Regions from separate parts of the Homo sapiens genome. Here regions 2 and 3 are each linked to region 1. Evidence: fine-mapped expression QTL. A gene starts in region 1. Each other region holds a variant in brackets. All regions are shown on one strand. Distances are from middle to middle. Region 1 holds the start of COLGALT2 (collagen beta(1-O)galactosyltransferase 2). Region 2 overlaps COLGALT2 (collagen beta(1-O)galactosyltransferase 2). Region 3 overlaps COLGALT2 (collagen beta(1-O)galactosyltransferase 2).

The links. PIP is the estimated chance that this variant, and not a neighbour inherited with it, causes the effect.
Region 2: its variant is fine-mapped to the expression of COLGALT2 in cerebellar hemisphere (GTEx, PIP 0.99). The same link has a PIP of 0.9 or more in whole blood.
Region 3: its variant is fine-mapped to the expression of COLGALT2 in whole blood (TOPMed, PIP above 0.99).

Annotation. Positions count from the first base shown.
Region 1 is chr1:184,035,633-184,040,859 of GRCh38, forward strand. It overlaps COLGALT2 (collagen beta(1-O)galactosyltransferase 2), which reads right to left and starts at 2,096. Exons shown (of 12, transcript NM_015101.4): 1 at 1,463-2,096. The coding sequence starts at 1,725. RefSeq lists a silencer at 1,819-1,908.
Region 2 is chr1:183,942,121-183,947,347 of GRCh38, forward strand. It overlaps COLGALT2 (collagen beta(1-O)galactosyltransferase 2), which reads right to left. Exons shown (of 12, transcript NM_015101.4): 9 at 3,312-3,444; 10 at 2,076-2,203. Among named protein-coding and RNA genes, the nearest start is that of COLGALT2, 93 kb to the right of the region's middle. RefSeq lists enhancers at 2,680-3,522, 3,523-4,365. The variant C/T (reference allele first, on the strand shown) is at 2,286.
Region 3 is chr1:183,968,143-183,973,369 of GRCh38, forward strand. It overlaps COLGALT2 (collagen beta(1-O)galactosyltransferase 2), which reads right to left. Exons shown (of 12, transcript NM_015101.4): 5 at 1,127-1,331. Among named protein-coding and RNA genes, the nearest start is that of COLGALT2, 67 kb to the right of the region's middle. The variant T/C (reference allele first, on the strand shown) is at 3,251.

The sequences.
Region 1 (5,227 bases):
CAACTTCTTATGGTAAATACTGTAACGTTTTAAAAAACTAAATCATGCATAAAGATCAAAACCATATTTTAAAATATCTCTTAAAAAAAACACAACAACTAAGGTAACTGATATGTGTGAATTTCTTTTGGTACCGAAGTGGTTAAAAAAAAATCCTTCCTTCTGGTTTAAAGCCTGGCTGTCCCAGTGCTCTCTTTCCACATAATATGCCCTTCTCCGCCAGGCGGTCACGTATGGCAGGGTATATAGTAAAGCAGTGTACAGCACAGAGCTGTACTATATCACATGTTTGCTTTCGCACCTTTGCACCTCTCCCACCAGGTACTCTGAGGCTGCCAATTCTAGCTGCTGCTTTTACTCCTCTTCCTCTCTTTGCCCAACCGCTGCTTTAAGGATGTGTCTCGCCTGAGAACAGCTCCCTTTATCAACACAAGACAGAAATTGCTCCAGAGTGACCTGGGCTCTGTCTTCCTCAGGGGGCCAGAGTCTTCTTGTCCGAGTACCTACCTGACAGCACATCTCCCCTGGCCAGCATCCACCTCCTTGTCCTCCACAACCCACTCAGCGGCTAACCTGGCCACCAACTAACTTCTCGCCCTCGGATCCTCGCGTTTATAAAAGGTGCGAGACGACCAAGTTCTACAAGGTGGGGCGGGCAGGCACCCGCACTTATCCCCTGGCCCTCCCCGCAGCAGACACAGGGACCAGGTCCAAGCTTCTTTCCTCCGGGGACAAAACTTGGCTGTTTATCTTTCCCAGGGCATCTTCGTCTCTCCCCGGGACGTGGAACCCCGATGCACCGGCAGGGACAGCCCGGAGCGCTCGCAGGAGACCAGGCCCACGGTGGTGCCATGGTTGGGCACACTCCGCGGGCTCCGCCCAATCTCCACCCCTAGGTCCAGGTCCCCCTAGGAGAGCTAGGAGCACATTTCCAGCCTGGAGCAGGAGCCCGGCACCGGAAAGTCAGAGCAGCGCACTGCGGCGCCCCAGCCACTGCGGAGCCCCTGGCCAACCGCAGTTACGTTCCATCTGTCGTATCTACATGGGAATACGGCGACAGGCACCCTATCCCCTCACGTCAGGGCTAGCAGTATGAGGTGGGGAAAGAGGAAACCTCGAGAGTTAAAAGCGAGGGAACTGAAAGTCCCCTTGAGGGGTGTCCCCCATGCCCCTTGTGGGACAAAGCCCCAATTCGCAGGCTACCCTCCAGAGCTCCAGCGGTCCGGTTCTCCCCATCAGCACCCTCTGCGCACACTGACCCGCGCGTCCCTCCGCAGCCTGACCGCCCGATCCGCCAGCCACCGGCGCGGGCAGCGAGGGGGTGTGTGCGCCAGATTTTCCGCGTGCCCCCCCGCCCCTCCAGCGGCTCCCTCGCCCTGCAGCTGCTGCTCCGGGCGCTGTCCGCGCTGGGCAGGCCGCCCCCGCGTCCCGCCGCGGCGGCCCGGGGCCCGTGCGCGCTCACCAGATGGCCATCCTGCTCTTGGGGTAGTCCAGCCGCTCCAGGCAGCCGAGGAAGTGCGGCAGCGTGTGCGCCGCGTTGCGGGCGAGGACCGCCACGAGCACCGTGGGGCTCTGCAGGGGCGACTCCGGGAAAACCACCGGCTCCTCTCCGTCGTCCTCCGAGTCCCGCTCGGCGACGAAGCGCGCTCGGCAGCCTTCGCGGAGCAGGGCTGAGGAGAGGAGCAGTAGCGACCAGGCGAGGGTGGCAGCAGGGCGCGCAGCCATGTTCCGGGCCGAGGCGGGCGGCGGGGAAGTCCTGGCGCGAGCGCCCGGCTGGGCTGCCTGAGGGCGGCGGCGGCTGCCGGGGAGCAAGGGGCTGCGAGGGGCGGCCGGGGGATGCGGCTTGCCGCGGCCGGCCGGCTCACACACTGGCCTCGGCGGCTGCGGTTCCCAGGACCCTCCCGCCGCCGCTGCACCGCCCAGGCCCCAGTGCGGGTGCGCAGCGTACCTGCAGCCGCTGGCGCTCCCCTGCGCCTCGGGCTCGCAGACAGTAGTGGCCGAGGGGCTGTGTGCCCTGAGTCCTGAGGAAAGTTCCTCTAGTCCAGGTTCCGCTCGTACAGCTGAGGTCTGTGGCCTTCCCTAGAGCCGCGAGTTGTGGCCCTGTCTGCCAATGAGCCTGTGAGTGTGTGTGTGTGTGTGTGTGTGTGTGTGTGTGTGTGTACATAACGGTACAACCCCAAGAAAATTTATTCTGCTTTTGCAAACCGCAGACTGAAGCCCTTCACAGTGATGCAATGTATCCAGTTTTCATAATGCACCTATTGACTGAGTAGAGTTCTAAAATGAAAAGTCTCCCCAACTATTCACGATTATGACAAACACTTGTTTAACCACCGCAAAGGCAGCATGTCGCATTTTCTTATATACTCAACTTCTGAAATTCATTCTTGACTGAGTAGACACCTAATAACACAAAGTTTGAAGACTTGGAGAATTTTGGAGCCAGATCAGACCCCGCAAAATAAAAGAAAGCCCTTGGGAGACACTGTCCTGAAGCCTCACTCTACTGTGAACCCAGTAAGCCTCCTCACAGGAGGGCTGTGAAAGAATAAATTCACTTAGCTGGTTTTCTTTTTCCGTAATAAGCCAATATGATAGAGTAACAAAGAGGGAAAATTCGCGCATGTTGGAGAGCAGAGAAGAGATAAGGAAGAAAAGAAGGGGTGAAGGAAGAACACAATTAGCACATAAAATGAAACTGCTGGCATACACTGCTAAAGGAGATTTACTTTTTTTTTTTTTTTTTTTTTGAGACAGGGCCTCACTCTGTTGCCGGGGCTGGAGTGCAGAGGCACGATCACAATTCACTGCAGCCTCGACCTCCTGGGCTCAAGCAATCCTCCCACCTCAGCCTCCCGAGTAGCTGGGACCACAGGTGTCCATCACCACGCCTAGCTAATTTTTTTTTTTTTTTTTTTTTTTGTAGAGACGGGTTTTCACCATTTTGCCCAGGCTGGTCTGGAACTCCTGGGCTCAAGTGATCTGCCCAACTCGGCCTCCCAAAGTGTTACGATTACAGGCATCAGCCACCATGCTCGGCTGGATATTTAGTTTTGAAGATATATTGTGTAGCCTTTGATAGATAAGTATGGAGGGTGTTTTGGTGCCAGTGCACATTCATGATCTCCAATCCCAACTCACCCTCAGGTCTGTCCCATAGTCTTTTTATTAGTTGTTATCAATCCTTCTCAGCAACTATTAGAAGTCTTCCCTACTGTCTTTTGAAGTATATCACCTCCTTCATCCAGCTCCCCCAACACCACTGTCTCCAACTAGCATCCCTACCAAGACCTTTCTTACTTGCAGGTGCCTCCTCACGACAGGGTCTTTGATCACAGACTAGAAAGGGAGAGGTCTCCCTTTCTAGCCCATGATTTTTCTCTATCATTCCACTCTCTACTGAATCTTCAACTGATCTCTATCAACTCCTTTCTCTCAAGCTAAATACTTGGTCAGTCTTCTCTTATCCGTTAAAAAAAAAAGAAAGAAAAGCTTTAAAAAAAAGTCCTGTGTCTTCTTCTAGTCATCCCTTTGCTTGACCAAGCTCCTTGGAAGAGAGATCTATACTTGTATTCTCCACTTCTTCATCTCCCATCTTTCCCACCACAGTGCAGTAAGGCGTCAGCCCTCCCCACTGTTCTGCAAAACCAACAGATGGCCTCAGCATTGGCAGATTCAGTAAACTCTTCCGTTCTCACCTTCCTGGACTTCGATTACATAATCTCCCATCCTAGATCTCCTCTGATACTACTTGTCTCTGAGCCAAGCCCCTTCACTGTGTGCCTCCCTATAGTGTGCTAGTCTTCCCACTCCATATGGTCTCCTGTGGTTATATCCTCAAAATCTATGTCTTCTGCTCTAATCTCTTCTCTAATCTTCATATTTTTTTATCGAATGGCCTACAGACATTTCCTTCCCCTCCATCCATTTTCAGGAATTGTTCCCACTTTCAAGGGGCTCACAGTCTTGTAGGGAAGACTGAGAGTTAAACATCTGTTAGAAGTACTGTAACAGATGTACCAGCTACAGTGAAGGGATAGAGGAAGATGTGGTCATTTCCACAAGGGAGGTAGTGATGGGACTGTTAGAAAGGTCCAGACAATCTCCATGTTGTTCTGTCTTTCTTGTTTCCCTTTCTTGAACTATGTCCCACTCATCTTTCAATACTAAAATCCGCACTCCTTAGCCAAACTTGGTTTGATAGTTATCATTTGTTCACTTTACTGCAAACAGAGGGAGTTTAAAGCTAGGCAACCACATTTCTGTCTTATTTTCCTTCTGTTACTGATATGGTCTGCCTATGTCCTCACCCAAATCTCACATCGAATTATAGCTCCCATAATCCCCACGTGTCGTGGGACGTAATTGAATCATGGGGGCAGGTTTTTCCCATGCTAGTCTCGTGATAGTGAATAAGCCTCACAAGATCTGATGGTTTTATAAAGGGCAGTTCCCCTGCACATGCTCCCTTGCCTGCCGCCATGTAAGGTGTGTCTTTGCTCCTCCTTTGCCTTCTGCCATGATTGTGAGGCCTCCCCAGCTATGTGGAACTGTGAGTCCACTAAACTTCTTTTTCTTTATAAATTACCCAATCTCAGCTATGTCTTTATTCACAGCGTGAGGACAGACTAATACAGTTACCTAAAGTCAACAGCTTATCTGAGTCTATTTTTTCAAAGAAAGGTGAAGCATCTAAACCTGTATGGTCTCTAATGACATTATAATGAAATCGGCTCCATGGAGTTCTCTTAAAATAACTACAACCTGCTCTGCTCTGTAGATGAAATCAAGGGTTTCCCAGCCACATAACCTACAAAACACCTATTTAAAACTTTTAATTGAGTGCTCATTTAGTGACTGAGAATATTAAGGTAATAACAGGGTATGCAACAGTAGAAGATCATTGTAAATATGGTTGGGAGGCAGTGGAGGGGAAGCCTGGGAAAAATTAAGTCCCCATCTTACTAACAGATTTGTTTCATAAGTTCTTCAGAAATCAGTAATGTGAATTTGGATGTTTCCCCCCCGCATAGGATTGATGTTATAAGACAGTTAATTTGAAAAAAAAAACTAATTTAAAAATAAAAGCCAATTATATTTTAAAATATTCATTGCTTATAATGCTCTTTCCATGGAAAATCGGCTGAATGGAAAGTCAGGGTTGTACACACATATCTCTTTGTCTCCACTGCCAGTAGACTGTTCCAATTGATTCTACATAAAGTTA
Region 2 (5,227 bases), 94 kb before region 1:
TGTATTTTTACTAGAGACGTGGTTTCACCGTGTTAGCCAGGATGGTCTCGATCTCCTGACCTCGTGATCCACCCGCCTCGGCCTCCCAAAGTGCTGGGATTACAGGCGTGAGCCACTGCGCCCAGCCCAGTTTACTTAAACAGCTGAAAATTTAGCTTCTGGATTGAGAGGTGTTCTAAGTGTAAAATACATACCAGATTTTGAAGAGTTGGTACAAAAAAAAAAAGAAGGTAAACTATGTCATTAATGGTTTTAAAATATTAATTACATACCAAAATGATGATACTGTTTGGATATTTTTGTTAAATAAAATGTATTAAAACTAATTTAGTCTAATTTATTTTTACCTTTTTAATGTGATTACTAGAAAACTGAAAATGACATATGTGGCTTGCATTATATTTCTATTGAACAACACTCCCTCAATGATTCCAATGACTTGTTCTATTCTTCCCTTTTATTATTTTCTTTTCCTGGAAAGATGTAATGTGGCAATCATGAACAGCTTATTACCTTTCATGTTTTAGGTTTAAGTAACATTTGTTTCTTTTTTGTTTTAGAAAATAACAGGTACAATTTAAAACTGTTACAGTTCTTTAAGACTATATAATAGATTTTAAGGGGATATTTTGACTTGATCAACCTGTGAAATTTAGAAAACATTTTTTTCCTGTATCCTTATCAAGACAACTGTTCTTCCTTCTTGCATCTGTCGGTACTTTGTCCTGAGAAATGCACCCACCGAACTACATGTGAACGGGAACGTATGCCAGCTCTAAACCTTAGATTCTCTGGGCTCAGTCTTCTGTGATTATGAGGCTTAAGTGAAGTTGCCTTTATACAAGTCACGTGGACATCAAGTAGCTTCCAGGCCTGTGAGGCCTTAACCACAGGCTGCGGAGCCATCCATTGAGAAAGGCTGAAGTGCAGCGACTTCTGGAGGATATAGGAAGAAACAGTGATCTCAAGGGACTGTGCAGAATGCCAAACCAAACCACATGACCACATGACTGAAATCTGACAGGGCATAGGTGTCTTATTACACAGTGACGCATTAGTTGAGCCATTGCTAGGTTTCTTCTGAGCTCAGAGTGGCCCATTTTCTGAGGGAACAAGTATTCCACCTGGGCCCACAGTTAAATACCGCCTGTGGGTGGGAGAAGCAGGGACAGCTCCTCTGCTGCAGCTGCTCCAAAGAAGCAGGCTCAGAGTTGATGAATTGCCTTTGACACACAGCTGGGAGCAAACACAATGCTTGGGAACTTTCTGCTTCATTGGAGAGAAATTGAAAGTGTCATTTGTTTTAAAAAGAAAATGAGAGAGAGAAAGGAGGAGGCAGAGGAGGAAGAAGAAAAAGGAAAGAGGAAGGGAGAGAGGGAGAGGAAAAATGAAAGGGAAGGGAAGGAAAAATGAAAGGGAAGGGAAGAAAAAAGCAGAAGCCACTCAATTCCCAGAGAGTAGACAAAGAACATTAACTAAATGTCAGCTCAGAGCCAGCACTCCCTTGGTGAGCCTGGTTTTCCTGCATCAGCCTCAGACCCTTCCCCAAATCTAGTTGTCCATGTTCTTCATGTTTGTGCAGCCCCATTTCCCAACAGAGGAGCTCCCTGGCTGACCCTCTAACCTCCCACCTTCTCGGAAGCTGCAGAGGCAACCTGCTGTCCCGGGAGCTGAGTCTTAAATATGACACAGGACTTTAGAGCTTGAATAAATGGCCTCTTCTCCAGCTTCACACCCACTCCATGTGCCACGTTAATTGAGGGTGGGATTTCTGCTGTGCTCCTAAGTAAGTGCTCAGTGCCACACCTTGGTTCTGTCTGAAGGTCCCTGATCTGCAGGCCGACTCCAGGTCTCAGACAATCTTCCACAGTTTCCCACCCTGAAGAGTAGAAGGATGCAAAATCCAGTGGCTAACCTCTACCCATTTTTATTTCTGAGAACATTTATGGAAAGAAAACTAGATAAGTGGAAGCTTAAGCTGTATCTCCTACTGGCTGTGGAGGTGGGGCTCTCTGCGCATTGGAAAGGACTGAGTGCCTCTCAGAGCCCTCTCGTAAGATCATCTTGTCACTCACATCAGTTCCCAGTCCAGCTGAGCCTGGTCAATGTTATCCATCAGCTTCATCAGCTTCTTCTTAAACTGATGCTCAAAACGCACATCGTCTTCAATTACAAGAGTCTTCTCTAGCTCTCGATCAATTACCTGCAAAAGTCATCAGTAGGAAGATACCCTATGAAAAGTTTGAAACCCAATTTTTATTAGATAAATAAGTATTAAAAAGTCA[C/T]GAGTCTAGTAGCACAGATTCATAACTGGAATCTAAGCAAATGGCCATCAACAGTAGAATAGATAATAAACTTTGGAATATTCACAGCAGTGAGGATATATGATCACAATTAAACGCAACGTTATAGGTGAATCTCCTAAATGTCATGTTAGGAGAGTACACATACTGCATGATTCCATTCATATAAGGGAAAGTACAAACAAAGGTAAAGCTATTCAATGCCTTTAGAAGTCAGGATGGTGACTGCCCTTGGGGACTGATGACCAGAAGGCAGTACGGGGTGGGGGGGTGCTTGTGGGATGCTGGTTACCTGCTTCTGGATCTGTGTACTGATTAACATGGGTGTGTTGTTTGGTTTGTGAAATTTCCCTGAGCTGTATCTTTTGATCTATATCTTTTTATACCTATTTATCACATTTCACTTAAAGTTTAAAGAAAACAAAGGCAGGCATAGACTGGATCATTAAAAGAGAAAGTGTTCAAGGGGCCTTTCTTCAGGGACTTTCTTTTTGGTTGTGGAAACTGACTGTTTATCAGGAACCCCACACACCAATATCTGCTCCAGATATGTCTTGATCTGTAAGACAGGGGTTCCACTTCTGGCTCTGCCACTTCTTACCGGGTCAAGCTACTTAATAATTTCTTCTTCGGTAAAGGTGGTCTGTCCTTCCCAACCCACCTCACATGACTTCTGTGTGATTTCTTGTATAAAATCACTTAATAAGTGATGTCATAATAGGTATAATAGAAGGCATTCCTGCTAATGATGATAATGAATTAATAAGAGTGTGGCACACAGGACATGGGTGTCTCCCCCGTCACCACCCCAAGTGGCACCAAAGCTACTCCTCCTTGCCCCTTTGTTGCTGGTCTTGGGTCAGAGGGAGACACAAGGCAGGAGCAGCTCTCATGCACATTTCCAGAACAGTTGCGGGCTCACTTTACATCTGGCCCTAACTCACCTACGATAGCCTGCTTTCCTTTCTCCTCATCATAAAACTGCAATCTGAATAAAGCATTATTTACCTCTTTCCAGACTGAGTAGTGGCTGAGAAAGCAGCCGATTTCACCCCTTGTTAGAGGCCTGGAGGAATAGGGATCTCGATAGCCAGGCAGCATTTCAATATTCAGTGCCTTCAGCTGGCTTGTGTTGAGTGCCCTGCATCACATAAAACACGTCTGGAGATTAACAAGTCAAAGGTCCCCACCACAAAGGCCAGAGAAAGAGAGAGTTAGTTCTGCAAACACCCCTCCCCCACACAGACAAAGACAGAGAGGCTTCCCTTTATTCCTTAGAAGTTCCTCCAGGCTAATGTGTCACACTAGTATTATGAGGTCTGGGAAGACAAGAGGGTATCATATTTTTGTGTATCCCTCATAGTGCCCAACATAGTTCTAAGCATCATCAGTTTTTTGACAAGATTTAATAAGTACACTCCTATGGAAATTAGTTAAAGTACTGCAATAATCCAAGGAGTGTTTGATCAAGACCTACTGCTGAATCTCTGTTAACACAGTGAGCTTTGTGAAGTTCACAGCTGCCCTAATCCTAACCTGTTCACCCCAGCCCTACAAAAGCCTTGAAAACCAGTAGCCTCACAACTAAGAGAGCGGCAAACCCCACCAACCCAGAAGCCACTGGCAGGGACAAAATGGACTGAGACTCCCTTAAAGACCTGCCCCCAGAAAATAATCTCTATTCAACCTGTCTAGTAGCTCCTTGAAAAGCTACATTCTCAGAGCTTGTCTTGATTTGACCTGACTCAGAGTTCATTTTCTGTGAACAGCACTATCTGCAGGTCATTTGTCAAAACCCATGAGCAACAACTGTTTAACATTACAGCTGTTTGAGAAGCATTATCAGCTGATGCTAACAAGAAGCCCACCAAAAAACTTAAAAGGAAAAACCAAGGAATAAGAGGTCCATAGGGAGTTTGATTTGCTCCAAAATATCCCTGAGAATCTAGAAGGCCCCAGGCATATTCAGGGCTGTCCACACGCCCAGGAAAAACTTGAGAAGTCCCTAGTCTCTCACCTCTGGCTGACCTTAAGGATCTGGAAAAAAATGTAGTGAAGGCAAATGAATAAAACACTGCAATGAAGGAAGAATTTGGCATAGTAAGTTTTAAAAATTAATACAACCATGTGGTATCTATAAGAGGCAGCCTTTAGATTAAAAGACAAAAATAGGTTGAAAGTAAAAGAATAGAAAAAGATATACCATATAATCAGCAATGACAAGAGAGCTGGCAGAGCTATGCTAATATTGGGCAAAATAAATCTCAGACAAAATTCATGCTAGAGCCAAGGAAGGACATTTTTTAATGATAAAAAGGTTAATCTGGGCCGGGAGTGGTGGCTCACGCCTGTAATCCCACGACTTTGGGAGGCCGAGGTGGGCAGATCAGAAGGTCTGGAGATCGAGACCATCCTGGCTAACACGGTGAAACCCCATCTCTACTAAAAATACAAAAAATTAGCCGGCCATGGTGGTGGGTGCCTGTAGTCCCAGCTACTTGGGAGGCTGAGGCAGGAGAATGGTGTGAATCTGGGAGCTGGAGCTTGCAGTGAGCCAAGATCGTGCCATTGCACTGCAGCCTGGGTGACAGGGCAAGACTCCATCTCAAAAAAAAAAGGTCAATCCATCAGGAAGGCATAACAATTATAAATACATATGCACCTAACAGAACCTCAGAACCATGAAACTGGAAGAATTGAAAGGAGAAACAGACAATTCAACAATAATAGGGGAAGACATCAATATCCCACCTGCAATAATAGAACTAGGCAGGAGGAAGACAAGGAAACAGAAGACTTGAATAATATCTTAAAATAATCAGACCTAGCAGACATCTATAGAACATTCCACCCAACAATAGCCAAATACACACTTTCAAGTGTGCATAGAACATTCTCTAAGAAATACCATTTTTTAGACCATA
Region 3 (5,227 bases), 67 kb before region 1:
TATATGGCCACAGTGAGTTTATTCACCATCTTCTTGGTTTATGAACGTATTTTTGCTAGTGGTTAAGTGACACATTTCTGGCACATTAATAATGGGACCCAACTTCTGTCAGGAAAGTCTGAATTATCCTAACAAAGCTTTGCTCTGTTAGATGCCATGTGTCTTGCTGTTGAACTGCTCTTGTGAATTTTGTCCTCCTGAAGCAAGTGTAGGGTGAAATGAGAGAAATAACTTTCCTTCCTGTTGACTTGTCTTTCTCAAAAATCTCCAGGCCCCACTAGAAATGCTTTCCCAGTGGTTCATAAAAGACCTCAGTCTCGCTTTGCCTCTCCTTCCACAGGGACTGAGGCTGAGACTGTTCGGTGCCTCTTTATCTGTTCTTTCCTTCTTCTAGAGTGTGAAAATTGCAGTGCATGCATGCAGAGAATAAAGACGACATTCTGAGCCTCCCTTACAGTGAGGTATTGTCCTGTGACTAAGCTCTAGCTAACAGGATTTGCATGGAAGTACTGCATTCAACTTCTGGATTGCACACTTCAAGGGACAGGGAGAGTTCTCCCTGTTGTTTCTGCCTTGCTGGCTGAAACGCATCCATGGTGGTGAGACACCTGGGACTCCACAATTAAGGGCAGTACCTCGTGGAGTGTGAGAAGCAATACACAAGAAGCCTGGGACTCTGAACACTTTGTGGAACAAAGCCACTACAGCAGCTCAGACTTTTTCAAGAAGAAATAAACTTCCATTTTTAAAGTCTGGGGTCTTTGCCAGTGTTGTTTTAGGCCTCTGTGACAGTTTCCTAATTAATAAATGAACTTCTATAATAAACAATTGCAATGCAGTAGCACCACAGAGAAGCAATCACCTTCCCATAATTCCCAATATCACCACCAGTCCCTCCAACTCAAAATAGAGTGGGTTCCTGGGTAGAGGCCAGCCCTGGCTCTTGGTCATTGGTGCTCCCAGGGACAGCAACATAGAGGGTGCTGGTATGGTTATTGCAGACAATTTACTGCCTCTCACTACCAGACATATGAGGGTTTTTTTTTTTAATAAAATGCACAAAACAAAGGAGCTGGTCATTTTGCTGTGTCTCCATTGTGGCACTACAACCAAAGACAAACAGTACCTGCTTGCCTGCTGGAGAAGGCAAAGACAATGATGTCATCAAAGGTCCAGGTGTAGTCCTGGTGTGGGGGGTAGAAAGTCAGCTTGTCCGAGGCCTCCTTCCTGAGGTCAATTAGGAAGGTGGAGTGGACCATGGGGACGGGGAAGCAGCCTGTCCTCTTCCATTCTCGAATCTGAACGTAGTCTGGGGTCCTCTTATAGAAGCCCTGTAAAAGAGCAAATAGGTGGGTTGTGTTTTCTGATTTGAAGTCTTCATCCTTCTCAGTCATTTGCTAGACTGATTCCTTTCAAGTCATTACCAGCTATATACAAGCTCCCAAACAAAGCCACCTTCACTCCTCTTATCATGGCCTATGAATTTCCAAGTGAGCACAAGAAATGCTGTCTACATATAAAATAATACTAAAAGGGTCTTGATATAAGAAGTAACTTTTATTTCAGCATATCTCTAGATTTAATAATTTCATAAAAGTGTATTTTATGTTGACTTATGATTAAATATGAAGCATGAGTATTAAGAAGTGGCAGAGCAGTTAAGGGCACAGGTTCCAGTGTCAGACTCCCTGAGTTCAAATCCTACCTCAGCTACTTATTGTCTGTAGGTATGGGTCAAGTGACTCAACCTTGCTGCGCTTATTTCCTCATCTCTAAAACAGGGATGACGGCACTATCTACTCCATGGGGTTAGCTGTAAAATTTAAGTAAGGTAGAACCTGAATAGTGTTGAGACTACTGCCCAGCACCAAGAATGTATCAGCAAATACCGGCTCCTATTAAAATGACATTACACTGTGGCTAATATTTGTAATTAAACATGCATTACTTAGATATACAAATGAGGGTCTTCTTTCAATGCAGTTACTTAGTCAATATTCTGGTGAAGCTGCAGCTGCTCCATAGTTTTTGGGGATTCAGCTTCTGAAACGTCCTTCTGCACAAGCACACAGGACAACCAATTTCCTTATTCCAAAGCTTGAATCATTTCCAGAAAAGATGAAGATATATCTCAACAAAACATGCTTACAAAACATACTTGTGGAAGCTTTGCCAGGCATTTTGGAAAATGTTCTAGGTGATGGCAGGCTCACTGGAATGAGTGTTAAGTTTTGCAAAGCCAGCACTCCGAAGGGCACCATACTCTGGAAGTTCTTATGTGTTCATTAATCAGTTGCATCACTTCATGGTTACATTTCCTGTTGTAATTCAGCATCCACACATAAGGTGCTACAGCCTCACCTACTTCTCTGACATTCCCTTCAGGTTCTAGAAGAGTGTCCTAGCTGAGCTAACCCTAATGCCGACCCCATGATAAGGGAGGAGGATCAAAAATGAGGACTCAGAAGATGTGGGTCTCAGAGTCATCTTAATCACCTTCTAGCCGTTTGATCTTAGTCCATGCCTACCCTCTTTGAGCCTGAGTTTTTTCTCCTGAAAAATGGGATAACAGCTGCTCTGTCAATCTCATAGAGCTGCAGAATGAATCACATGTGATAAGGTCTATGAACCTATTTTGGGAACTGCAATTCATTATATGAAGTATTATCATTACTATAATGTTTTTATTAGCCTTTAACTTAAGGATCATTTAACATCCTCTATGGTTTTCCTAATACTTCAGCTTATGAGCAGTCTTCCAAGAGATAAAGGGGACTCGGGTTTTTTAAAGGGCTGCCTAAGTACTTGCGTCTAATATAAAGTTCTAGATTACTTAGGAACAATATTCCCAGAATGATTAGCTTGGAAAATCCATGATGATGATGAATCACTGAATATCCTTGGGGTGGGGGTGAGAAGGAAGGAAGCAGGGAGAGTGAGGGAGAATAAATGTGCCTCCTGCAAAGAGGCAGAGATGATGAATGTGTTCCTTTTTCCACATAAATTGAATCTTGTTGGTAATAATTCCTGTTCATTGGCCAGACAACATCAAGGACATTTTGTTTTGAATGAGTTTAAAGGCTCTGGGAACCAGGTCCTGCTTTGAATTTATGAAGTCACTGGCCCTTTCTATTCCTGCTCTAGTAGAGACTAACTGGGATGGTAGAAAGCCAAAAATAAATGGAGGAAAATAATACTTGTCCCTAAGTTGCTCAGAATTTAGTTTTACTGTACAAAACAAGTGAGCACA[T/C]TTCTCCTATTTGCTTTTAAGCCTGAAAGTAAATAAGGAGATAATACAAATTTGTAGGCTGCGGCCACTAGGATAACCCACCCTTGTTGCTGATGTCAAAGCACAACTCATTAAAAACAACCCTCAAGTGATTCTGCCATGTGAAACACTGAAAATGTATGAATTTAAACCAATATAATGTTTTCTCCCAAGGAAGTGAATGGCTGTTAGAAATATGAACATATTACCTTCCCAAAAGAGACACAGAAAATAGCACGCATTCAAAATCTCTTACAGCTAGAAGAAATAATTACAACAAAAGAGGAATGCTTCATCCAGTGGTGTACTGGACCACACATTGTTAAATTTTCAGAAAGTTTGCAAACCAGTTGACATGTTGATAGCTTGGAATCCATAAAAACAAAAATCACGTTAATCCCCACCACTCTAATGACACCTCATGTGGCAGTTTTACATGTTTTTAATAGCTGTATCATCAAGTGGCTATACTGCAGTTTACTTAACCTTTCCCTTAGCTTAACAACATTTAAGCTGTTTGCATGGTGGGAGTATTTAAACCATAAAAATTGGCAATGCTACCAACTAGGGTTTTTCCCACAAAGAGCCAGTTATTAAACATTTATCAGCACACTACTGACCTTATTTCTCATCCAAAACAAAACCAAATATAAAGGGGAGACTCAAACTTTAGCCCTTTGGCCATGAGAATACATTGAACATACTCCCTCTTTTTTTGAGACAGGGTCTCAGTTGCTTAGGCTGCAGTGCAGTGGTGTGATCATAGCTCACTGCAGCCTCAACTTCTTGGGCTCAAGCAATACTCCCTGCTCAGCCTCCCGAATAGATGGAACTATAGGTGTGCACGACACCACAACTGGTTAATTTTTTGATTTGTTGTAGAGATGTGGTTTCGCCATGTTGCTCATGTTGGTCTCAAACTCCTGGGTTCAAGTAATTGTCCTACCTCAGCTTCCCAAAGTGTTGAAATTACAGGCATGAGACACTGCTCCTGGCCAACATATTTTGCTTAGCACATTTTTATCCTACATTGATACATATTACATTAATCAGTTGAATTTATCTAATTCTTTAATTAAAGAATAAAAAATATAACCAGCCATGAGCATTCACTAAAACAGACCACTATTTTGAAGATTTTACTATGAAAAAAAGAAATAATAAAAAATCAAACCTTTTTTAACTTGAATTTTATAAAAATAACCTACCATGGTAGTTTTCATTATTAGAACTCTTTGGAAATAAATTTGGCAACATACATCGAAGGTCATTGAAATATTTGTACTTTTTTTTTTTTTTTCTTTTTTGAGAGGGAGTCTCGCTCTGTCACCCAGGCTGGAGCGCAGTGGCGCGACCTCGGCTCACTGCAAGCTCCGCCTCCCAAGTTCACGCCATTCTCCTGCCTCAGCCTTCCGAGTAGCTGGGACTATAGGCGCCCAACACCACGCCTGGCTAATTTTTTATATTTTTAGTAGAGATGAGGTTTCACCATGTTAGCCAGGATGGTCTCAATCTCCTGACCTTGTAATCCGCCCGCCTTGGCCTCCCAAAGTGCTGGGATCACAGGTGTGAGCCACCGCGCCTGGCATATTTGTACTGTTTGACTCAGTAATTCCACTTCTAAAAAGCTATCCTAAGGATATAATCTTAAATGCTGAAAAATTATATTAATCATGACGGTCACGATAGTTAAAAAGTTGTGAATAATTTAAATGTTTTTCAAACCGAGATAAAGGTTAAGTAAATTGGAACATAGCCACTTGATGATAACACAGTTACTAAAAACGTGCAAGTTTCTATCTATGATGTTGTTACGGTGATGGGGATTTAACATCTGTCTTGTTGGTTTTCTTTTAAACTTTTTTTAATTTCTAAGTTTTTCTATAGTGTTCTTATGTTAGTTTTGTAAGGACAAAAAGAATTAATTAAAAATAGTAATTCCTGAATCAGGAATTGGCT